Linked DNA regions of Homo sapiens. The protein of the gene in region 6 purifies or fractionates together with the protein of the main gene of each other region. This does not show direct contact. Each region holds a gene or a part of one and is shown on either strand. Other genes may lie near its edges.

What was found.
Region 1: the proteins of RABL3 (region 6) and HTR2C purify together in Homo sapiens (co-immunoprecipitation; one large-scale study listed by IntAct). This does not show direct contact.
Region 2: the proteins of RABL3 (region 6) and RAP1GDS1 purify together in Homo sapiens (affinity purification with mass spectrometry; 2 studies listed by BioGRID and IntAct, with this or other methods). This does not show direct contact.
Region 3: the proteins of RABL3 (region 6) and RELL1 purify together in Homo sapiens (affinity purification with mass spectrometry; one large-scale study listed by BioGRID and IntAct). This does not show direct contact.
Region 4: the proteins of RABL3 (region 6) and TMEM185A purify together in Homo sapiens (co-immunoprecipitation; one large-scale study listed by IntAct). This does not show direct contact.
Region 5: the proteins of RABL3 (region 6) and SPPL2B purify together in Homo sapiens (co-immunoprecipitation; one large-scale study listed by IntAct). This does not show direct contact.

The regions. Positions count from the first base shown.
Region 1 is NC_000023.11:114,582,447-114,587,060, reverse strand, and holds the start of HTR2C (5-hydroxytryptamine receptor 2C isoform a precursor), read right to left. Parts: upstream 2,976-4,614; 5' UTR 2,402-2,975; intron 1-2,401. UniProt on the Homo sapiens protein: G-protein coupled receptor for 5-hydroxytryptamine (serotonin).
Region 2 is NC_000004.12:98,421,623-98,425,540, forward strand, and holds part of RAP1GDS1 (rap1 GTPase-GDP dissociation stimulator 1), read left to right. Parts: intron 1-3,918. UniProt on the Homo sapiens protein: Acts as a GEF (guanine nucleotide exchange factor) for the Rho family of small GTP-binding proteins (G proteins) that stimulates the dissociation of GDP to enable subsequent binding of GTP.
Region 3 is NC_000004.12:37,609,812-37,613,472, forward strand, and holds the end of RELL1 (RELT-like protein 1 precursor), read right to left. Parts: intron 3,532-3,661; 3' UTR 823-3,531; downstream 1-822. UniProt on the Homo sapiens protein: Induces activation of MAPK14/p38 cascade, when overexpressed. Induces apoptosis, when overexpressed.
Region 4 is NC_000023.11:149,625,156-149,629,073, forward strand, and holds part of TMEM185A (transmembrane protein 185A), read right to left. Parts: intron 1-3,918.
Region 5 is NC_000019.10:2,352,627-2,355,956, reverse strand, and holds the end of SPPL2B (signal peptide peptidase-like 2B isoform 2 precursor), read right to left. Parts: intron 3,012-3,330; coding exon 2,748-3,011; 3' UTR 862-2,747; downstream 1-861. UniProt on the Homo sapiens protein: Intramembrane-cleaving aspartic protease (I-CLiP) that cleaves type II membrane signal peptides in the hydrophobic plane of the membrane. Functions in ITM2B and TNF processing.
Region 6 is NC_000003.12:120,700,750-120,704,667, forward strand, and holds part of RABL3 (rab-like protein 3), read right to left. Parts: intron 1-3,918. UniProt on the Homo sapiens protein: Required for KRAS signaling regulation and modulation of cell proliferation. Regulator of KRAS prenylation, and probably prenylation of other small GTPases. Required for lymphocyte development and function. Not required for myeloid cell development.

The DNA.
Region 1 (4,614 bases), on a different chromosome or scaffold from region 6:
TTATTGAGGCTTGACTCAATTATAATGTTGGATGAATCTATTAGAATGTTAGGCTTTTTAGATTTTACTTTTATTGCTCTTCCCAAGTAGACTTGGAAGCACAAATAAATATTTCTTATTCTCTTGCCTTAAATTAACTTTTGAGAATACCTTGAAAAATTGAGGGGAAAAATCTAATGGCACCGATAAAATGGAGGATAATAATATCTCCGTCATTCATAGACTTGCTATGAAGACTATATGAAATAATATATATTTTATGTATATATATGTAATAGTCCTGGATCCACGTCTGGCATCCAGGAGGTTCCCAGAAATATCAGTTCTCACCTCTTTTCTGATGAATTCATACTGCACAAAAGCCTGTTACATTATCTGAAAAAGTCATCACTGTCATCCATGACACCTCTAGATGGAGATAAACCCCTCAAGAAAGCATAGAAAGGGTTAATAACCCTCTCTAGATAATGCAGATAGAAAAACACCGTCATTTTTGCTAAAGCACCCCAAATCCTACCTTGACATTGCAATCAACAAGCCTTATCCACCTTCCGAATTTCAGGACTTGCGTTGGGCTTGTTGCTGTAGATGATAGACGCTATTAGGAAAGAAATCATGTTGATGAAACAAATATTTTCTTCCCTCCCCAGGAGGATCAGGAGAATTTATTTAAGGAATGAAAAATATAATTAAATATTCTATAACCTACCTCCCCAAAATATGGACAAAATTATTTATTTCCCCCCACCTGTGGGGTGGAATGGGGGGGCATTGTAGATGATTCCCAAACAGCCAGGTGCTAAGGAGATTATACTCTTCAGAACAGACAATATTCAGTATGATTTCAGTACTGCAAAAGAGATGCAATGATCACGGTAGATATCATTTTCTGTGGGGCATGTCAGTTGGCCTTTGTCATTGTCTCTACACATATGTAGCCAACTACACAGTAACACCTTGTTTCTATTGCACTCATATTTTGATTGTCAGAATGGCTGATATGTACGTAAACTTCTTCATGAAAAATTTAAACTCTGGAGCCCAGATATCTTTTTTCATTACCGTGTATGTGAGGTCGCAATTGTCTGCAAACTGGGGAGCTCAGAGGTTACTCAGTGCGCCGCATTTCCTCACCCCCCGCCCCCCAAATCATCTTAGCTCAACCATATATGAGCGTCCCTCGGTTAGCCTGCCTAAAAGGTATGAGGTAAGGGGCATATGCACTTAGTGGCTCAGCAATCAGAGGCTTCCTTGGATGGGACTTATACTGGTAATATTAATGAAGAAGCTGCGCGGTACTGGCAGTGATTCCAGACCAAATCTTTTAACTGCCGAATGTCACTCGCTGAATTATGAGTTGGGGAGCTCTGTTGCTTAAAATACAGGGTTCTCAAACACAATGCAAGTGTTTGTCACCTCAAGTCGCATACTACCCAACAGGAAGCAAAAGGCAAAGGGCATGGCGCAGAAAAGAAACAGACACACAGACACGTTTTGCAATGACGAACTTTATGTGACATCAGGAACGGCAACCTGTTCTCATGTTTAGCAATTCCGAGGAACGCTGTAAAGACTGCTTGTCAGGTAAAACTGAGTACAGGAATAAGAGGCAGCGCTGGAGACTTTTTCGCAATCCTTTTCAAAATATAGAACAGTAACCAAATGACTTAGATAAGCTAATTAATTATTTAAAAAAAGGTTCACTGGATGCCTTTATCCTCTCCTCTTAAGCTTACGTGATCACCAGCAGCGCTGTTCAAATTCAGCTAACAGCTGTTAGACCAAACACAGATCCGCAGTGTGTTATCTCCCCAGAGTTACGGATGTTCGCTGAGACCCGCCAGAAAAATTAGGGTCGCTTTTCAATGAGAACATAATAAAGGATCCTTGGTTCCCCCTCTGCACACACTGTCCCAAACCTTGCGCCCCCTCCCACTTGCCTGCTGTCGGATTTCTTAAAATTGTAGTCGGTCCTGCAACTCAGTTGCATCTTCCGCAGCCCGACCCTCTACTCAGCGACATTGCGTTCAGTTTCCCTCCTTTCTCTCCTCCCACTCCTCACTTCTTGAGACCCCACCCCCGCCTTCCGTTTCTGTCTCGGCTTCCCCCGCGCCAGGTTCTCTAGACCCCCGCCTCCGCCCAGCGTCTTCATCTCGAGCCCCCGCTCCCAATCCCCTTAGAGACTTCTATGCTCCTTCCGTGGAACCTAAGCTCCTCTCTTCTTCCAGAGACTCAGTCTCCTCGCGATTTGCGCGTTCAGAGTCCCTCCCCCCAACCTCCGCTAGGGCCAGTGCGGTCCTGCAGGCTGCAGCCATCCGGGACCTGTCCCCGCTCCCCACCCCATCCCCCGCCTAAATCGTTGGGGTCTCGGCTAGCAATGCCGCCCGGGGCTCCAACTTACCACTAGCGTCCGGGAGGAAGACCAGGCAGCGGTCGCCGCGGCGGCAGCTAGACGAGAAACGGACTCGGCTGCAATCGCCCAGCGGAGCCCGCGGCAGTCGGTGCGCTGAGCTGCGCTGCGCTGCGCGCCGCAACCTCGCGCCTCGGCGGAGGGAGAGGAATGGAGGGAGCTCGGCGCGATAGGAAGCGCCGGCGAGTCGACCTCCTTTGGGTGACCGTGCGCCCCCCGGCTAGGTTTGGCTCTTTTCGCTCCGCTATCTTACTCTAGCTTAGTAACTGACCACCTCCAGCATCTCTGCACTAATCGCGTCTTCTTTCTTCTTCGTTGGCCCCTAACTAACTACACTACTCTAAACGGACGAAGGCCATCACACGAGCGCCACGACGATCGCGACGACTCCGACGACAACGATGTACAGACAGAAGAAGAGTTCATATGCAATCGGCAGGTAAGGGGCAAGGCAGGCCAATGGAGCAGCCAAGGCTAGCAATCTAGCCGCTCCAAAGGCAGTATCGGGAAGATCGGTGCATCTGAGGAAGGAAGCGTCCTCGGCAAGCACCAGAGCGCCTACCTCGCGCGGGTGAATCTGCACCACGCTCTTGGGCCAAAAGCGGGATGAGGGGAGGAGCCAAGAGCAGCCAATCAGCACTCAGCATTACGTGGCCCCCGGGCCTGTTTGGACCGGTCTCTTAGTGCATCTGGAGCCTGCTGGCAGGGGGCGCGAGACCCCATGGTGGAGATGGGGGTGGGGGTGATGATTAATCTGATTCACAAGGCCTAGAGAGTAGGGGGAACCAGGATCAGCCATGGCACCGGATAGAGAGAGAGGGAAGGCTTTCTCAAGAATGTACCCTCAAAGATTCATAGCATACCCCTCCCCAAACACACACACACACACACACACACACCCCTGTACATTTCATTTCAACAAACAGCATTCTCAAGTCTTGCAAATTTCATCAAGCTTTGAAACTCCCTTCAAGGGTCTCTGTTCCGACTCTTGCCCATTCCTCCAACAGTAGCAACTGAGGCACTCACAGGGTCAAACATTTGGTGAGTGCGCAAAGGCCACAATCCTGTTATAAGGCCCACTTCCCCATCCTTGTCTCCCCATCCTTTCCCTAACCCCAAAGGAGAAAGAAAAGCTCTTGGCCTTCGAGCCCCGGGAAGGCACAGTTTAGTTCCTTTCTTGACCCCACAGGCCTCATTAGAAAGACACCTTGAGGGCAGCTCTTACGGGTTTCCAAGGGGGTGAACATATCTCTCTGGCACAGGGCCTTGGGCCCACAGCCAGTCGGTTGCCCAGTCGTTGTGGGGGAGGGAGGGGTGCTGTCAATGCAAGGTCAAGGCAGCAAGAGGTGAACCACAAAGGCTCTCTTTTGGCAACTGCTGGGATGCCGAGCTGCAACCGGTCAGGCAGAGCTCTAACCGGTCAGGCAGAGCTCTTTTTCACAGGCTCCCAGGCGCAACCGGGCAGGTGCCTGCGGTGTCCTGGCGGCAGCGCAGAGAAGGGTGAACGGGGCCCCCTTGGCTCAGAGGCACCAAAACCAAGCTGAGTAATGGAGATGATCCCACGGAGAATGGGGACAGAAGCAGATCTCTCCTAAGAGGGAACGAAGGGGCGAGCGGGGGTGGTGGTCTCGGGTCGCGGCCGAGGTTTCTCGGCCCTGTACCGAGGACCGGGGTGGGAAAAGTGGAGATTGGCTCCCCGCCTGTCGGAGGTAGCTGGACCGAAGCAAAAGATCGAGCCTCCGGTTTGGCTACTTAGGACCGGACGGCAGCGCAGCGAGTGTATAGAAGAGGCTACAGAGAGGCCGTACAGAGAGAGGCTTGGAGGACCTAACCCGGCAGAACGCAAAAGGGGTGGGAGCTGCCGGCTATTCTGAAGGCCGAAGTTTGCCTCAGTAGCCCCAAAAGTTAGAGATGGAGAAGGAAGTGGAAGCAATGATAAGGGTCAGGCCCCTTCCTTATTCTGGATGCCCTAGGAACAGTCATTTCTCTCTGTGCCTCTGTTTCCATATTTGTGAAAGGAGCTGTCCAGTCTATTCCAAAAGGGGCATTTTGGGAATCCTCTGATTCCCTCCATCGCCACTGAATTCAGGCTTTGAAATTTAATTTGGCAGTGAACATACTGTCGGCACCCAAGTTCTGTTTCGAAAAGCAAAAACCCATCGCAGTTTTCTTGAAGCATCTGTTGAATGCTGCTGTATGAT
Region 2 (3,918 bases), on a different chromosome or scaffold from region 6:
CGTTATCAGCATCAGTGTCAAACATTCTTTGTGCCAGGCATTGACCATGCAGCCTACTGATATTTAGAAATTAAATGGTACCTAGATAGTATATGATGTCCAGAGCTCACAGAGTTAGAAAAAAATCCATTCTTGTGGCTGGCTGTGCCGCTGTCTGGCACATGGTAGATAACCAATAAATGAACAAATGAGCTATTTTAAAGATCACAATAGTGAGTACCCAGGCCAGCAGTTCAGCAGCTGATTTAGTATCTAGATTATATGATTTTTAAATTTTTTAAATACTGTTTTCTTGTTGGGCGTGGTGGCTGACACCTGTAATCCCAGCACTTTGGGAGACTGAGGTGGGCAGATCATGAGGTCAGGAGATCAAGACCATCCTGGATAACATAGTGAAACCCCGGGTCTACTAAAAATACAAAAAAAAATTAGCTGGGCGTGGTGGCGGGCACCTGTAGTCCCAGCTACTCGGGAGGCTGAGGCAGGAGAATGGCGTGAACCCGGGAGGCGGAGCTTGCAGAGAGCCGAGATTGCACCACTGCACTCCAGCCTGGGTGACAGAGCAAGACTCCGTCTCAAAATAAAATAAAATACTGTTTTCTTTTTCTTTTTTGAGACTGAGTCTTGCTCTCTCGCTCAGGCTGGAGTACAGTGGCACAATCTCAGCTCATTGCAACCTCCACCTCCTGGGTTCAAGCAATTCTCCTGCCTCAGCCTCCAGAGTAGCTGGGATTACAGGCAGGCGCCACCACACTCGGCTAATTTTTGTATTTTTAGTAGAGATGGGGTTTCACCATGTTGGCCAGGCTGGCCTCAAACTCCTGACCTCATGATCCTCCCACCTTGGCCTCCCAAAGTGCTGGGATTACAGGCATGAGCCACCATGCCCAGCCTTTAATACTGTTTTCTAAGGTGACCCTTTCAGTCATTTCTCTTGTACAACTTCAGTAGTGATTATATATGAGGAGAAAGTTTAGAACTCAAATCCACCAGCTGTTTTCATTTATTTTTAGAACAGATAAGAAGAAGATGCCAAGAGAAAAAACGTAAAACTAAAGCTGTTCTTGTATAAATCTCTTTCATATAAATAATTGGCTTCACCATAATAGCTGTCCCAGCTGGTAAGCCTCAGGAGTGTTCTTCTCCATCAGATGCTAAATCTTGAGAACTTTCCCTGGGGAAAAGCAGCTGTTAACTAGGACCTTCCTATTACCTGTCTCACCCAGACCACCCTAAAAGCTCATACATTTTTCCTGACACAGGACCAAGCAGTATGTTGGCAAGGTGGAAGTTGTCAGGAGAGAATAGCAAAATGGCTTCCTTGGTACCCCTTTGACCCCTTCTCCATCATAACTGCTCTCTCACGCCCATTTGTTCATTTAACAGTTAATATTTGAGTTCTTGCAGTGTAAATACTAAAAAATAGTGTTTCTATAAAGGAATTAACTATCCGTTGAGGGGACAGAAATAAAAACAGCTAGCTTAAGTACAGCTTTAAAGCTACGTATGCTATTCGGGTGTAACAGAGGAAAGAAAGACTAACACACTGTCTGGGTAATCTGGGATGGTGCCATAGAAGGAGTGCTATTTTAGGCGTTAACTAGGAATCTCAGGAGGAAAGGGAAAGAGAATGAAGGAAAGGGCCTTTTCAGGCAAAGACAGCAGGATGTACAAAAGCACAGAGATGTAAAACAGCATAATTTTTTAAAGAAACTGCAAATAAAGCAGTATTGCTAGAACACAGAGTGTAGAAAGAGACAGTAGCCAGAGAGGTTGAAAACTGGGAATTAAGTGAATTATATACCAAGTTAAGATATATGGACTTGATTCTGTAGAGAATTCGGGAGCACTTAAAGGGTTTTAAGCAGCAAGTTGCCATTATTTGAGGGTTTTTTTGTTTTCTTTATTTTTTGTTTTTTTGTTTTTTCGGGGTTTTTTTGAGACAGAGTTTCGCTCTTGTTGCCCGGGCTGGAATGCAATGGTGCGATCTCCACTCACTGTAACCTCCGCCTCCCGGGATCAAGTGATTCTCCTGCCTCAGCCTCCTGAGTAGCTAGGATCACAGGCGTGCACCACCATGCCCGGCTAATTTTGTATTTTTAGTAGAGACGGGGTTTCTCCATTTTGGTCAGGCTGGTCTCAAACTGCCGACCTCAGGTGATCCGCCTACCTCGGCCTCCCAAAGTGTTGGGATTACAAGCGTGAGCCACCACACCCAGCCATTTAGTTTTCATTTAGAAAGATGTCTCTAGGGTTTAATGGGGGTAGAAAGGACAGTTATTGCAAAAATATATATGAGAGTTGATAAAGGACTGAATTAAGGTTTTGAGTTGAGCAATTTGAAATTGCTGATATTCAGCCATTTTTGAAACAAATTTCATATGGGTTATTCAACTAGAAGCAGCGAGGATGGAAAAGAAGAGACAGACCTGAGAAAAATATGGGTGGTAGAATTGACAGATTCAACAGTAGAATTAAAGGAGGAGGTAGTTTTAGAGCTAATTCCAAGTTTGGGGTTTACCACCAGATTGGGTTATCATGCCATTCAACAAAATAAAACACTATAGGAAGAGGTGCAGCTAACACTCCCTAAACTTGCCCACTCGCCCATGCTCTTTGGAGTCATTACCCTTAATCTTTTTGCTCTACTCCAAGAGAATCTCCACCATTGGTTTGCAGGGGTATACAATCATTTGGATTTCCCTGGGCCATATTGGAAAACGAATTGTCTTGGGCCACACATAAAATGCACTAACACTAACAATAGCTGATGAGCTTAAAAAAACAAAAATCACAAAAAAAACTCAAACACCTGTGGCATTTGAAGAAGAAGAGAAATCTAAAAGTTTAGAAAACCAGCTGAGTGCGGTGGCTCACGCCTGTAATCCCAGTACTTTGGGAGGCCAAGGTAGGTGGATCATTGTGGTCAGGAGTTCCAGACCAGCCTGGCCAACATGGTGAAACCCCATCTCTACTAAAAATGCAAAAATTAGCCAGGCATGGTGGCGTGCGCCTGTAATCCCAGCTACTGGGGAGGCTGAGGCAGGAGAATTGCTTGAACCTGGGAAGCGGAGGTTGCAGTGAGCCAAGATCGTGCCACTGCACTCCATCCTGGGTGACAGAGCAAGACTCCCAAGACTCTGTCTCCAAAAAAAAAAAAAAAACAAAGAAAACTTTTGGAAAACATATTTGGGAGAATAATCAAGGAAGACTTCTCCAGTCTTGCTAGAGACCTAGACGTCCAAATACAAGAAGCTCAAAGAATACCTGGGAAATTCATTGCAAAAAGATCATTGCCTAGGCATATTGTCATCAGGTTATCTAAAGTTAAGACAAAGGAAAGAATCTTCAGAGCTGTGAAGCAAAAGCACGAGGTAACCTATAAAGGAAAACCTATCAACTTAACAGTGGATTTCTCAGCAGAACCCCTACAAGCTAGAAAGGATTGGGGCCCTATCTTCAGTCTCCTTAAAGAAAGCAATTATCAGCCAAGAATTCTGTATCCAGTGAAACTAAGCTTCATAAATGAAGGAAAGATACAGTGTGTTTCAGACAAACAAATACTGAGAGAATTCACCACTACCAAGCCAGCACTACAAGAGCTGCCAAAAGGAGCCCTAAATCTTAAATCCTGGAAACACATCAAAACAGAACCTCTTTAAAGAATAAATCTCACAGGACCTACAAAACAAAAATACAATTAAAAAAAAAGTGGGGGGTATACAGGCAACAGATAGCATGATGAATGGAATAGTACCTCACATCTCAATACTAAGATTGAATGTAAATGGCCTAAATGTTCCACTAAAAGATACAGAATTGCAGAATAGATAAGAATTCATTAACTATCTGCTGCCTTTAAGAGACTTACCCAACACATAAGGACTCACTTAAGGTAGAGGGGTGGAAAAAGACATT
Region 3 (3,661 bases), on a different chromosome or scaffold from region 6:
ATAAAACTTGAATAGATGAGGAATTGCTTAACAGATGATGAAAGAAAGTGGTTTCCTGAGATGGCATCTACTCCTGGTGAAGATGCTGTGAACACTGTTGAAATGACAGCAAAGGATTTAGAATATAATAATACATAAACTTAGTTGATAAAGCAGCATCAGATTTTGAGATGATTGACTCCAATTTTGAAAGATGTTCTACTGTGATAAAATGCTATCAAACAGTACTGCATGCTATAGAGAAAACTTTCATGAAAGGTGAGGTCAATCAGTGCAGCAAACTTTATCACTGTGTTATTTTAAGAAATTGCCACAGCCACCCCAACCTTCAGTAACCACCACCCTGGTCAGTAGCCTTCAACATTGAGGCAAGATCCTGCAGCAGCAAAAAGATTATGACTTGCTGAAGGCTCAGATTATCGTATTTTTTTTTAGCAATAAAAAGTATTTTAAATTAAGGTATGTATGTTTTTTGACAGAATATTATTGCATATACTTAATAGACTATAGTATAGTATAAATATAACTTTTTTATATGCAGTGGGAAACCAAAAAGCTCATGTGGCTGGCTTGATTGCAATATTTGCTTTACTGCAGTAGGCCGGGGCTGAACCCACAGTATCTCCAAAGTATGCCTGTGTTAGGGGAAGGGGTACTGCAGGAGGGGAAATCTCATGAGGAAAGTCAGCCAAGTGATCACTTGATATTTCAAGACACAAGAAATTCAGCACTGTAAAAAATTAAGCTCAATAATTATACTGCCACGACTGTATTTCCAGTGTACAAGGCGCCAATAATTGGATCACCCACAAGACAACACACTGCGTTTAACATTTTTATTTTTAACTCCGCTTTGGTAGTACAAAAGTCATAAAAGTACAAACCAGACAGTTAAAAATACACTTGACACTCGAAATGGTGAAAATTTTCCTTACAAATTTTTACATCAAGGTAGTAGCCAACTCATTGATGACACCAAAAAGTTGTCCATCATTAGTGTTTTCTAGAGAAAGTCTGTTGTGGATTCCCTCATCCTTAGAAAGGAGGAGGAGTAACACAAGACCTGTAAACATCAGTTGCTTTGGGAACACAGGAATTCTCATCAGATAGTTCAGTATAAACCAGTAAAAAGCGTATGTGTTGAAAATACTGAACGCTTAATTTTGGCAAATTTGGAAGCCTGCCAGACAAAAACCGCTCAAGTATTTATTAGAAAATATTTAAAACATACTCTTGGTATCAATACAGTTTTAAATATTTTTGAGTATTCTCTTGCCTGTTGTATTGCTATTTAAAAAAAAGTGCTCTGACTTGAATAAGATGGAAAAATAATTAAAGCTAAAGAATATCTTACATTTTATCCCCCACCATTTTGAGGGCATATTTTTAAAGCAAAAAAGTATGCTTATTTGTTTTTAATTAAAATGATTAGCCTAGACTGCACATATATTATTTACACTAATACATACCCCTAAAAGTCCTATATTGCTACTTTCTGGATCTCAGTGAAATTTATTTCCATACTGACTTTCTCCAGTCCACAGTGTATATGAATATGTACACATACAGTGTTTATTAGTTGTCAGTAAAAATTCTCATGAAACTAAATTCCCCATTTATTTAAAAGGTTAGAAATGTTTAGTTTGATGCTGGAAATAAAATCATTGAAGTCTATGTACAGTAAATACTTTGAAGTATATTTTTATGGAAATCATCTTTTGGGAGACAAATGAAAGATGTGCATTTTCCTATATGAAATAAAAGAAGTGCTCAAGGCACCCCCCAACACTGACATGGAGGCGGGTCTTGGAGACCTTGTAACTGGCCTCCCCCACAGCTCACCCCAGAGCTACCATAAATCATGTAATACTATTTATGCCTCTGGGTCCTTTCAGGTGTTTTGTAAAATGTACAGTTATAAAAAAAAAAAAGAAAAAGAAAAGTTTGCCAGGCCTAAAGGGAAAAGTAACTGGAGTGTTTTAAATAATGAGCATTAGTTACAGGATGAAAAACAGGAAATACACAAAGAAAAACATGCCAGAGGTAGGTGCAGGCCCATCTTATATGAGAAGCAGGGTTCTAGGCCGGGCGCAGTGGCTCAAGCCTGTAATCCCAGAACTTTGGGAGGCCGAGGCGGGTGGATCACGAGGTCAGGAGATCGAGACCATCTTCGCTAATGCGGTGAAACCCCGTCTCTCCTAAAAATACAAAAAAAATAAGCCAAGCGTGGTGGTGGGCACCTGTAGTCCCAGCTACTCAGGAGGCTGAGGCAGGAGAATGGCGTGAACTCAGAAGGTGGAGCTTGCAGTGAGCTGAGATCGTGCCACTGCACTCCAGCCTGGGCGACAGAGCGAGACTCCGCCTCAAAAAAAAAAAAAAAAAAAAAAAAAGAGAGAAGCAGGGTTCTTTTGTTTTGGCCTTGGGTTGTCCAAACAAATTTGTGTGTGTGTGACTTTCAACCATTTTCTCCTTTATTCAATGGATTAACCAAGAATCGCTCAGCTAAAGGTTAAAAAAAAAAAAAAAACAAAAAAAAACAAAAAACCGGGTGCAGTGGCCCACGCCTATATTCCCAGCACTTTGGGAGGCCGAGGCGGGTAGATCGCCTGAGGTCAGGAGTTCAAGACCAGCCTGACCAATATAGTGATACCCCGTCTCTACTAAAAATACAAAAATTAGTCGAGCGTGGTGGTGCATGCCTGTAATCCCAGCTACTTGGGAGGCTGAGGCAGGAGAATCGCTTGAACCTGGGGAGGTGGAGATTGAGGTGAGTGGAGATTGTGCCACTGCACTCCAGCCTAGGGGACACAGCGAGACTCTGCCTCAAAAAAAAAAAAAAAAAAACCTTCTCAAAATGTGTAAGTGCTGTAGGAGTGACATGGTGGTGGCAGGAGTTAATGCTGAATTTGTGGTCAAGGAATCCAAAGTCTAGCATCTGGTCCCATCTGACTCCATGGTCCCTTGGGGAATCAACTCCTCAGGGCTAACTAGATTATTTCCACTGAGCTTTTACCACTGAAGATTCATCTTTTATCTTTTGTAACAGCTAACCTGTATGTATCAAGATCTTCTTACAACCAGTGTCAAAATAGGATGCAGGAACTGGAAAAAGAAACACACACTCACGTGCACACATGCATACACATATACACACACACCCCTGAGCATAAGCTCAGACTGTACATGAATAGTATCACTGCACATACTCATCATAATGGAAAAACTACAGTGTGTACACCAAGGCCTGGGATTAGGGGCTGGGAAGAGTAGAGGCTGGGAGTGGTTAAGAAGATAAAAACAGCTCTTTCCTTCCCTGGAAGTATAATAAAATTTTCAACAGACTCTTTCAACCAAAACTTGTTTCAAAGCAAACTGAATTCTGTATATGGCACAGCAATAATATTCCCTTTTAGGTTTTATCCACGTGCCTGCTGACTCCATGATAGAAACTGTATAAAATATATAAAAATATTCCCAAGGCAACTTCATATAAGTTTTCAGTCTCTTAGAGCTCTTCAAGTCAAGTCATTGCTGCAAGAGAAAACAAAAAATGTAGATCTTTAACCAAGGGTAAGCATCATATCACATATTAATCTGCCTGAATATTTAAAAACACAGAAGAATTATAATCTATTCTTACCCTGTCCCATCCCATCCCACC
Region 4 (3,918 bases), on a different chromosome or scaffold from region 6:
ATGACATATCAGGCAAAATGATTAGAAAACTCAAGCTCCATATTAAAAAGCTTAACTTCTGGAGTCCTAGGAAACTATCTAAAACTCCTTCAATCCACGGTCTCTCCTGTACAACAAAGACTTCCCAGTGGTAGATGTCTATTTGTACCCAACATCCACTCATTCAGCACGTAATTCAGCACCTCCAAATCCTGGCCCTCAAAGAACACAGCTAAGAACAATGTGTGTGTAATTATCAAGTAATAGGAATGATACTTTTAAAACTGGAAATTATACATTCAAATGAGATTTCTCTCCTTTAACCAGTCCCCTTGGGAGGCAATGCAGTAATTCCAATGGTACTTCATTACTCAAATCATCTTTGAAGCTTTCTTCTTGGAAGCACCTTGAGAACCTGCAGTCTGATCTTCTGACTATCCCAAATGGTGCTAAATTTTCACTGAGGGTGGATTCAAATTTTGGAAATGGCAAACAGTCAGTCAGAGCCAAGGTTAGTGAATAAGATGTGTGATCAAACTAGGTGGAACTATTTTGGTTGAAAATGATAGATGATCATAAAGCAATGAGATGGATCTTCTTATGTGATATGTAAACTGACTTTAAAGGGAATTCCAGATGAGTAACAAGGAGTATGAACAATGGAATAGGTGTATACATTCTCTTTCCCCAAGTAACCTCTTTGAATAACAACACTCATTTGGATGTATAAGCGCCACTAACAGGTTTGTTTTGTTTAATCACTTACAATTTGTAAATAGAGGGTTCCTTAGCATACTGGATCTACAATGTCATGGAGGAAAGGAGTTGTCACTTAACTAGAACTATGGCATGGCACGCAGGAAAGAGCACAGGCTTCATGAGACTGACGTGGATTCGAATGTTGACTTAGATTCTTCCTGCCTATGCAACTTCAGGGAAGTCACAAGCTGTCAAGACTTTAAAATAAGGCTGATACCTAATTTTGCAGGGTTGTTGTAAAGATCATGGATAATGGATGCAAAGCCCCTACATTGGGCCTGGCATGTGGTGGGTACTCAAGAAGTCACAGCTATTATTAACAGCAACATCAGTAAAATCAAGACCATTTTCTGACTGTAGGTGGCTTGAGAGGACAGAACAACAGATAAGCAGTCACTTGAGTGGTAAGTAGTTCATTGACAGTACTGACAGTACACTCGTGCATTAGATACTGCTTTCTTAAAAACAATAACCTGTAAAAACTATTTGCAGTAACTATGTATTTTTAATTCATACGACACATATCATCTGCAGTGCTCATACCACATGGACCTCTTCACTACCTGAACATACCAGGCACTATCATGACCCCATGCCTTTGTGTACTTTGTCCCTTCTGAGATACTGAAAGGGGCCAGCCCCTCCACACCTGTGGGTATTTCTCGTCAGGTGGGACGAGACTGAGAAAAGAAATAAGACACAGAAACAAAGTATAGAGAAAGAACAGTGGGCCCAGGGGACCGGCACTCAGCATACGGAGGACCCGCACCAGCGCTAGCCTCTGAGTTACCTCAGTATTTACTGATCATTATTTTTACTATCTTAGCGAGGGGAGTGTAGCAGGGCAACAGGTGGGGAGAAGGTCAGCAGGGAAACGTGAGCAAAGGAATCTGTATCATGAATAAGTTCAAGGAAAGGTACTGTGCCTGGATGTGCACGCAGGCTAGATTTATGTTTCTCTTTACCCAAACAACTCAGTGTAGCAAAGAGTAACAGAGCAGTATTGCTGCCAGCATACTTCGCCTCCAGCCACAGGGTGGTTTTCTCCTATCTCAGAATAGAACGAATGGGAATGGTCAGCTTTACACAGAGACATTCCATTCCCAGGGATGAGCAGGAGACAGAAGCCTTCCTCTTATCTCAACTGCAAAGAGGCCCCGCTCTTTCACTACTCCTCCTCAGCACAGACACTTTACGGGTGTCGGGCTGGGGGGTGGTAAGGTCTTTCCTTTCCCACAAGGCCATATCTCAGGCTGTCTCAGTGGGGGGAAACCTTGGACAATACCCAGGCTTTCTTGGGCAGATGTCCCTGCGGCCTTCCGCAGTGCACTGTGTCCCTGGTTAATCGAGAATGGAGAATGGCGATGACTTTTACCAAGCATACTGCCTGCAAACATATTGTTAACAAGGTACATCCTGCACAGCCCTAAATCCATTAAACCTTGATTCATTACAGCACAGGTTTCTGTGAGCACAGGGTTGGGACTAAAGTTACAGGTTAACAGCATCTCAAAGCAGAAACAATTTTTCTTAGTACAGATCAAAATGGAGTTTCTTATGTCTTCCTTTTCTACATAGACACAGTAACAATCTGATCTCTCTCTCTCTTCCTCACAAGGTACCCTTCCTACTCTCTGGTCTGATGACAACCCTACAATTCTAGCTCAAAAGTCTGGCTCAAAAGACTAGCTCAATTCAAAATCTAGCTCAAAAGTCATTTCCACTATAGACTCTTCCCTGCCTGCTCGAGACAGAATTAGTAGCTCTGCCATTTGTACTTCTAAGACATTTGGTTTCTTTCACTGTAATGCCTCATACTCTATTGAATTCTTATTTCCCTTTCATTTCTGCTTCTTCCACTAGGCTTACGCATTGAGAGGAGGACTATATTCCTTTATTTTTGTACTTAGAGCACCTAGTACATCACTTGGCACGAGATAGGAATCTAGATGTTTGAGGAATCAATGTTATAATATACTTTGCAAATAACTGTTAGAGGCCAGGTAGCTGACTTTAGTGAACTATATTACCAGCAATCGCATTCCTTTTTCCTGCTTCAAACAAGAGACAAGATAACTTATATGGACTCCAGAATGTCTTCTGAAGATGGAGCATACAGAAGTCTCCAAACACTACTGATCTCATCAGTACCCCATGCCCACAAGTTGGAACCCCCAGAGCAACACTTCTCAGCCTTTGTTCCAGTCTAGCACACCTGAGGGATACACCACACTCCCATCAGGAGCTCACAACAGATGACTAAGAAGGCCCAGCAGAGTTTTCACAGCCTTCCAGTGCCACATGGCTACCAGGGTGGAAGGGCCTTCTCTGAACCAGCAACTCCCCCAAAGTAGCAGAAAATTTCAAGGCTCCATGGTGAGTGCCGGGAGCCCACCTAATGCTACCTACTACCAGATCCCTACCACCTACAATGCCTCAGAATCAGTTTGCCTACTCTAAGAACAGGGCTCTTTCACTGTTAGGAAGCCTCAGGCATTCAAGGAAGGACTTGTTTGTGGGTCCGGTACATCTGTTTCGGCATGTCTTAACCTGCATAACTAAAAAGCAATTATGAAAAGAAGTTCATGATCAACCAGTTCAGTGCCAGATGGAAATAGGTAGAGTGGGTCAGCTGGCAGCCCTGTACATCTGAGTGTTGACACTTGTGAATCATTCTCTGTCACTATAGTTTCCAGAGCCTTGCCAACGCAGCAGTGGGTTCAGACTTACCAAGATCCAAAAGGCTGGAAAGGGGATCTGGAGCCATGACCCATGCCTTGGGACCCACCAAACCATGACAGTGACTATTTCTATGACAAAGACATGCTCTTCAAAGTAAATATAGCCATATTCTGCCTTAGTGCCATGTTCTCTCCCATCTCTCCAAAGCAATGGCTGCACTCTGAAGGTGGGAAGAGTGTGAGAAGAAAGAGAACCAGGCCACAGACCACCAGGAAAGCAGTGATTGAAAGCAGCAGCTCTAGATTTATCTTATAGGCTCTGGAGAGTTATTCAGTTATTTACTCCACAAATATTTATTGAGCCAGGTACTATTCCAAGTATGCAGGCTACGATACTGACACAGTCACGGCCTTGACCCCATGGAGCTTAAAGTTTAGTGGGGGAGGCAGGTATTAATCAAATAAGCATCCAGACAGACACAAGGGTACAAATATGCAC
Region 5 (3,330 bases), on a different chromosome or scaffold from region 6:
TGGTAAGGCCTGAGCCTCCATCTCCCGCTGCGTCCTCACCCTGTTCCACATTAAGGCCAAGGGCGTCACGCTGCCAGGCAGTCGTGGTTTGGCTCAGGGCCTGGAGGAATCCATGTCTCTGATCCCTCACAGCCATGTGGCCTCAGAGGCTTGCTGGTGGCCTTTTTTTTTTTTGGAGACAAGGTCTCGCTCTGTTACCCAGGCTGGAGTGCAGTGGTGCGATCACAGTTCACTGCAGCCTTGACCTCCTGGGCTCAAGTAATTCTCCCACCCCAGCCTCCTGAACAGCTGGGACTACAGGTGTGTGCCACCACACCCAGGTAATTTGTGTAGAAATGGGGTCTTGCTACGTTGCCCAGGCTGGTCTTAAACTCCCAGGCTCAAGCAATCCTCCCACCTCAGCCTCCCAAAGCACTGGGGTTACAGGCGTGAGCCACCATGCCCAGCCTGGGTCTCACTTTCTCTAACGTAGCGGAGAACTTTGTGAGACTAGAACAACACACACAGCAGCCCCTGATGCCTGGCAGATGCTCAGGACTCACTGGCCTCTCGGCCCGCACACAAACCCGCATCCATCACCCACGTGCCCACAGGCCCAGCGCCAGCCAGCAGCAGCTGGAAACCAAACCTTGTCCCAAAGCGGCTAAGACAGGTCTTTGCATTTTTAAAGAGAAAAAAATAATAATAAACTCTTTTGAGACGTGAGGATGCTATACAATTCCAATTTCAGGGTCTGGCGAGAAAATTACTTGAGGGATGGGCGTGGTGGCTCGTGCCTGTAATTGCAGCGCTTTGGGAGGCCGAGACAGGAGGATTGTCTGAGCTCAGCAGTTCGAGATCAGCCTCAGCAACACTGCAAGACCCCATCTCTATTTTAATTTTGTAAAAGGTATTTTGGCCCATTTTACACATGGTCTGTGATGCTTTCCAGCAACAGTGGCAGAGCTGAGAAGCGTGACAGGGACCACATGGCCCACAGAGCCCATGGGAGTGACGCTGGGCACCTCACAGCACTGGCCGGCCCTGCGGTGGCAATTCCAATCCGTCCTCTGCAGGACAGCCAGGCGGCCTGCCAGCTCTCAGTTCTGCTCACCGGGACCTGCACAGAGCAGATGCCCCAAGCCGTGCACTGCGGAGGCAGAGGCCGGGCCATATGTATCAAAAGCTGTGTTTAATGATCAGACGGAATGGCAGCAAGGCCACACGGACAGACGGAGCCAAGGACAGGACCGCCGCCTCTGAACCCCTCCCCACTGGTCAAACGTCCAACACCAAAAAAGAGACGTCCCCACCCCGTCCCCATGTACAAAATGGCTTCAGTGAAGGCGCCATTACTCCCTGGGAAGCTGGTATTTTTTGTAAGGGATCAGGGCTCACCCCTGCCACCCTCTGTCCGGAACAGACCCGTGAGAGCGCAGCGCTCAGCAGTCCCCGTGTGCAGCTGGGGACGACTGACTTGACAGAAACAGATTCTGGACTCGAGTCTGGAGGCCGCACTCAACAGGGCGGGTGGCGGGCGGGAGCTGGGGCCCAGGCACCACAGACAGCCAGGGTGCGGGCTCTGTCTCTGCGGCCACAGGGAGCGCTGCTTCGGAAGTGACCACGTGCAGCGAGGGGAGGATGCCGGGGCCTGGGGCCACGCCTCGGTCAGTTCCCGCACGGACGTCTCTGCCCTGGAGTCAGGAGGACCCCATCAGTGAGTAGACCATGCCAGTGGCAGATGTCCTCGTGGGTTCCAGAAGCTCCTAGCTGCTGGGTCCAGAGGGTTAAGAACCCAGGCACCAATGCCGCTGCCACAGGGAGAACCGAGGCCCAAGCCCCTCTCAGCAGAAAAGCAACACGGGGCCCACACGGGAAGCGAGGTTGGGTGCCGGGAGCTACCAGGACCTCCCACGACCCAGTCCCTCCCTCCCAGGGCTCCAGGGACCCCTGAGGGCCTGACCCAGCCTGCCTGGCGCCCACCCCTGCTTGTCAGAAGGGCAGTCTGAGAGACGTCCACCCCACCAGGTGGCACCAGCAGGACTTCTAGAAGTTGCGACCATTTATTAAAATGGGGAGGAGTGTGCAGGCATGGCCAGGCACCTCTGGCTGAGGGCAGGGCAGGGCCTTAGCCAGGGGAGCAGCTTGTCCACTTACTGCCAGCCTTGTTCACGCCCCAAAACCCCGCCCCACGGGCCTGTCTCAGCCAGCGTCAGGGGCCAGAGGCCGCCCCGGCCACTGGTCCGTGTCCTAGGCTTGGAGGCAGCTTCCAAACCTCCCAGGGGCTCCGATCTGCTCAAGAGGGAAAAGCGATGCCTTCTGGGAGACAGAAAGCTGCTCTTCCACCCGGAGAGCAGGATGCCGTGGGGAGGGAGGTCACCTGAAGGCCGAAGCAGCTGGTGAGCACCAAGTGTGGCCGCGGCCAGAGTCCACCCACGCCTGCTCACTCATGCAGACGACGCTTGAGGGTCTGCAGAGAGGCCGGGCAGGGCCTGCGAGGACGGACCCCGGTGGGGAGGATGGACCCGCAGAGAGCTTGTGGCAGCCGGGCGAGCTGGGAGCAGCAGGCGTGCAGCCGGGGCAGCTGGGCTGGGCGCGGGCACAGACCGCAGGGGTCTCGGCAAGGATGAGCACCATGTTGGGGCGGGTGGGGACGGCACAGGCCTCGGTCCCGGGGGACAGGCGTCTGTCTGTCTGTCTCCAGTGGGCGCCAGGCAGCCCCAACATCTTGGTGTGGCGGGCACGGCAGCGAGCGTCTCACCCCTCCCCTAGGCCGAGGCGCCAGGCTGGGTTACCGGGGACGGCTGGGCCTGGTCCCGGCCCTCGGATTCAGCTGGGCTCCCAGGCTCCCGCATGGGGGCTCCAGCCCCCATCTCCTCGGACGTGCGTGATTTTGGGGACTGCTCAGCAGGCCAGGGGGATGTGGCTGGTTCTTCGCTGGGCGGCTGCGGGGAGAGTGGCGTGGCAGAGTCTTTGGGAGGCTGCGGGCCGTCGGCTGGTGCTGGGGCCCACGGAGATGGAGGTAGGACTTTCTACAGGAGAAGGGAGGCAGAGGTGAGGCGGAGACAGGGACCCAGAGGAGGACCCTGGCAGGGGCCAGGACACCCAGCACCCGCAGGCCACGGGGGCAGGGTCAAAATGAGGCGCCATCCCCAGGGGCTCTGGACCCAAGGAGGGGGCCGGCTCCATAACCTACGGGCACCCAGGACCCTGTCCATCGGCACAGGTGCCGCGGGAGGGCCATCCGAGGCCAGCAGAGGCTGGGAGCTGTGCAAAGCCTCTCCAAAGAAAAGCCTGGACTACCGTCTCTCGCCCCTGGGCCTGGTCCCCGGCTTCTCCTGAACCTTCTGA
Region 6 (3,918 bases):
GAGAAGATAGAAAGTGGGTAGAGATATGGATGAAACAAGACTAGCTATATGTTGATAATTGTTGAAACTAGGCAACGGGTATATGGGAGTTCATTTTCCATTCTTTGTATTTACATATGTTTAAAATTTTCTATAATAAAAAGTTAAAAAAAGTTATTGTGGTAAAAACTACATAATATAAAATTTACCTAAATTGTTTAAATATGGCTAAAAACTCAAACTGATATAAAAGATATATGCTAAGCAGTCTTGCTCCTACCACTGTACCCATCCACCCATCTCCCCTGGCCCCCTATAGGTTACCATTTTTATTAGTTTCTTATTTTTCACTGATTCTTTATCCAAATATAAATACATATTATTTCTTTTCTTTCTTATACAATAGGAGGTATACGATATATATTCTCTGCATTTTGATTTGTTAAACCTAATAATGTACCCTCTGTAGATCTTTCTATTTTAGTTCATAGAGATCTTCCTGATTCTTTTTTAAACATTGAATACTACTCCAGTATGTGGATATGCCATTATTTATTCAATGAATCTTTCGTTGCTCGGACACTAGGGTTGTTTCCAAATTTTTTGATGCTATACAATAATGCACCAACAAAGCACACCAATGTATTAAGGTTGTTTTATACATTTGCAGGTTTATCTATAGAATCAAAATGAAACTGTAGTGTCAAAATGCAAATGGGTATAGAACTTTTACTGAATTCCCTGACAAAAATGCAGATTTCTTTCTGATATGAATATGCTGTCTCCTAACCCTAAATTTAAGGATAAGTTTCTTAAGTAGAAATTTTAGTAGAAAATAGAGAACAAGCTAGGTTAATGAAGACATCAGTGATGAAAGGAATTGAGATAGGAAATAAATATCAATGAGGCTTTGAAATATAGGTTTTAAATTAGTTGTGCTTATTCTTTATTAGGTCTTGCTGGAATCTACATATATATACTCAAACTTATACTATATTTAGGTTTCACATAACAATTAGACTTCCACACAGAAAACAAAGCCTTTGAAAGACTTGCTTCAATCAAAAGATAGAAAATGGGGTTCTGTTCTAGGTAAGACAGAATAAGCAAACTCTATCCTGTCTTTCCCAGTGAATGCAACTATAAAACCTGGACAGGATACATGAAGTGGCTATTTGAGGACTCTGAAAAATTAATAGTGAGCATATTAAGGAAGACTGCAATGTGAAGAACCATTGAATTAGCAGTTTCCTTCCATATCCCCTTGTCTGAATGCAACTCAGCTTAAAACCCAAAAGTGTGAACAGAATACTCCAGAAGAAGGCCTATAGTTCTGGCTCATGAAACAAGAAAGGGGACACACGAATACTTGGAGATAGTGTAGAAATACAATATTTTTCCTTCTGTTGTAAGCCAGCTTCTGAGCAATTTCATGACAGTTGTGGCAAAGGCTATAACACAAGCAGAATGCTCAAAAACAACAGTCCCCAACCTTTTTGGTACCAGAGACTAGTTTCATGGCAGACAATTTTTCCATGGACAGGTGTTTGGGGGATGGTTTCAGGATGAAGCTGTTCCACCTCAGATCATCAGGCATTAGTTAGATTATCATAAGAAGCCTGCAACCTAGATCCCTCACATGCACAGTTCACAATAGGATTCACGCTCCTATGAGAATCTAATGCCTCTGCTAATCTGACAGGAGGTGGAGCTCAGATGGTAATGCTCACTCACCTGCCACTCACCTCCCACTGTGTGGCCTGGTTCCTAACAGGCCATGGACCAGGGGTTGGGAACGCCTGCTTACAAATACAGAGGAAGGGAAATTTTTCTTTTTTTTTTTTTTTGAGACGGAGTCTCACTCTGTTGCCCAAGCTGGGGTGCAGTGGCGTGATCTCGGCTCACTGCAAGCTCCGTCTCCCAGGTTCATGCCATTCTCCTGCCTCAGCCTCCCAAGTAGCTGGGACTACAGGCGCCCGCCACAACGCCTGGCTAATCTTTTGTATTTTTAGTAGAGACAGGGTTTCACCATGTTAGCCAGGATGGTCTCGATCTCCTGACCTCATGATCCGCCCGCCTTGGCCTCCCAAAGTGCTGAGATTACAGGCGTGAGCCACCGCGCCGGGCCCAGAAGGGAAATTTTTCTGACTGATGGAACTGTATCTCAAGACAGTGGGGCAAACTCCCATTGCTTTTATTCTTTGTCCTTCTACCACTTGGCCCTGGACATAGGTGCAGTTGTGCAAGTGCATGAGAAAATTTGGCCTGGGGACCGAAAAAGGGAGCCCCAGCAAATCACAAAGTATGGCAGAGACTGTAGACAGGGTGAAGTGTGAGAAAGCAACCCCATGAAGTAGTTCGTGAATGCTTGAGCTCATTGCCAAAGCTGTGCATGCATGGATTTGATCCTACTTAGTGTACCAAAGACACTGAAAACTGAAACAACAGAGACAACAACACCCAGGTCACATACCGGGTGTTGCACAAATATAAAATAAGTGAAATCATATAAAGTATGTTCTTGGATCATAATAAAATTAAGCTAGAAGTCAATAGCAAAAAATAACTGGAAAGCCTCTAAATACATGGAAACTAAACAACACATTTCTAAACAGCCTATGGGAAAATCTCAAGGAGTATTAGAAAATATTTTGAACTAAATGAAAATAAAAGTAATACATTTAAACATTTGCAGGATGCAGCTAAAGCAGTGTTTAGAGGGAAATTTATAGCATTAAAATACTTGTATTGGCAAAAATGCAAGGTATCCAGTAAGTAATCTAAGAAGCTATAGAGAACAAAATAAACCAAAAGCAAGCAGAAGGAAAGAAATAAGAGTAGAAATCAATTAAACTGTATATGGAAAAACAATAGAGAAAAATCAATGAAACCAAAAGTTGCTTCTTTGGAAAAAAATCAATACAATTGATAAACCTCTACAAGTCTGACAAGAAAAAGAGAAGACATAAAATACCAAAATCAGAATGAAAAAGGTCATATCACTACAAACTGTGCAACTATCAAAAGGACAATAAACAAATACTATAAACAACTCTATTGATATACATTAAAAAATTTAATGAAATAGATGGAATTCCTTGAAAATCACAAATTACAAAAACTCATCCAAGATGAAATAAATAACTTGAACAATCCTAATTACTAAAGAAGTTGACTTTGTGGTTAAAAACCTTTCAAATAAGAAACCTCCAGGCCCAGATGGTCTCTTGGTAAATTCTACCAAACCTTCAAAGAAGAAATAACACCAAATATACTCAATTTCTTCCAAAAAATAGAAGAGGAAGGAATACTTCCAATTAATTCTATGAGGCCAACATTATCCTCACACCAAAACCAGTCAAAGACATTATGAGAACAGAAAACTACACACCAATGCCTGTCATGAACATGGATAAAAATCCTCAACAAAATATTAGCAAATCAAATCCAGCAACACATAAAATGAATAATACACCATGACCAAGGAATGGAAGGCTGGTTCAATATTTGAAAATCAGTGAATGTAATCCACCAGTATTGAAAATCAGTGAACGTAATCCACCATACTGACAGCCTAAAGAAGCAGCCACATGTCCATATCAATTGATGCAGAAAAGGCTTTTGACAGAATTCAGTATCTGTTCATGATATTAACAAAACTATCAGCAAATTAGGGATAGAAAGAAATGTTCTCAACCTGATAAATGATGTCAACAAAAAAAACCTAAAGCTGACATCATACTTAATAGTGAAATGAATGCTTTCCCCCTAAGATTGGAGTAAGACATAGATATTCACTCTTATCACTCCTAGTTAGTACCCTTTTGGAAGTTGCTGCCAGTGCGAAAAGGCAAGAAATAAGACAACAAGCACACAGATTGAAAAGGAAGAAATAAACCTGTCTATGTAGAGCATCCTAAGGATTGTACTAAAAAACTC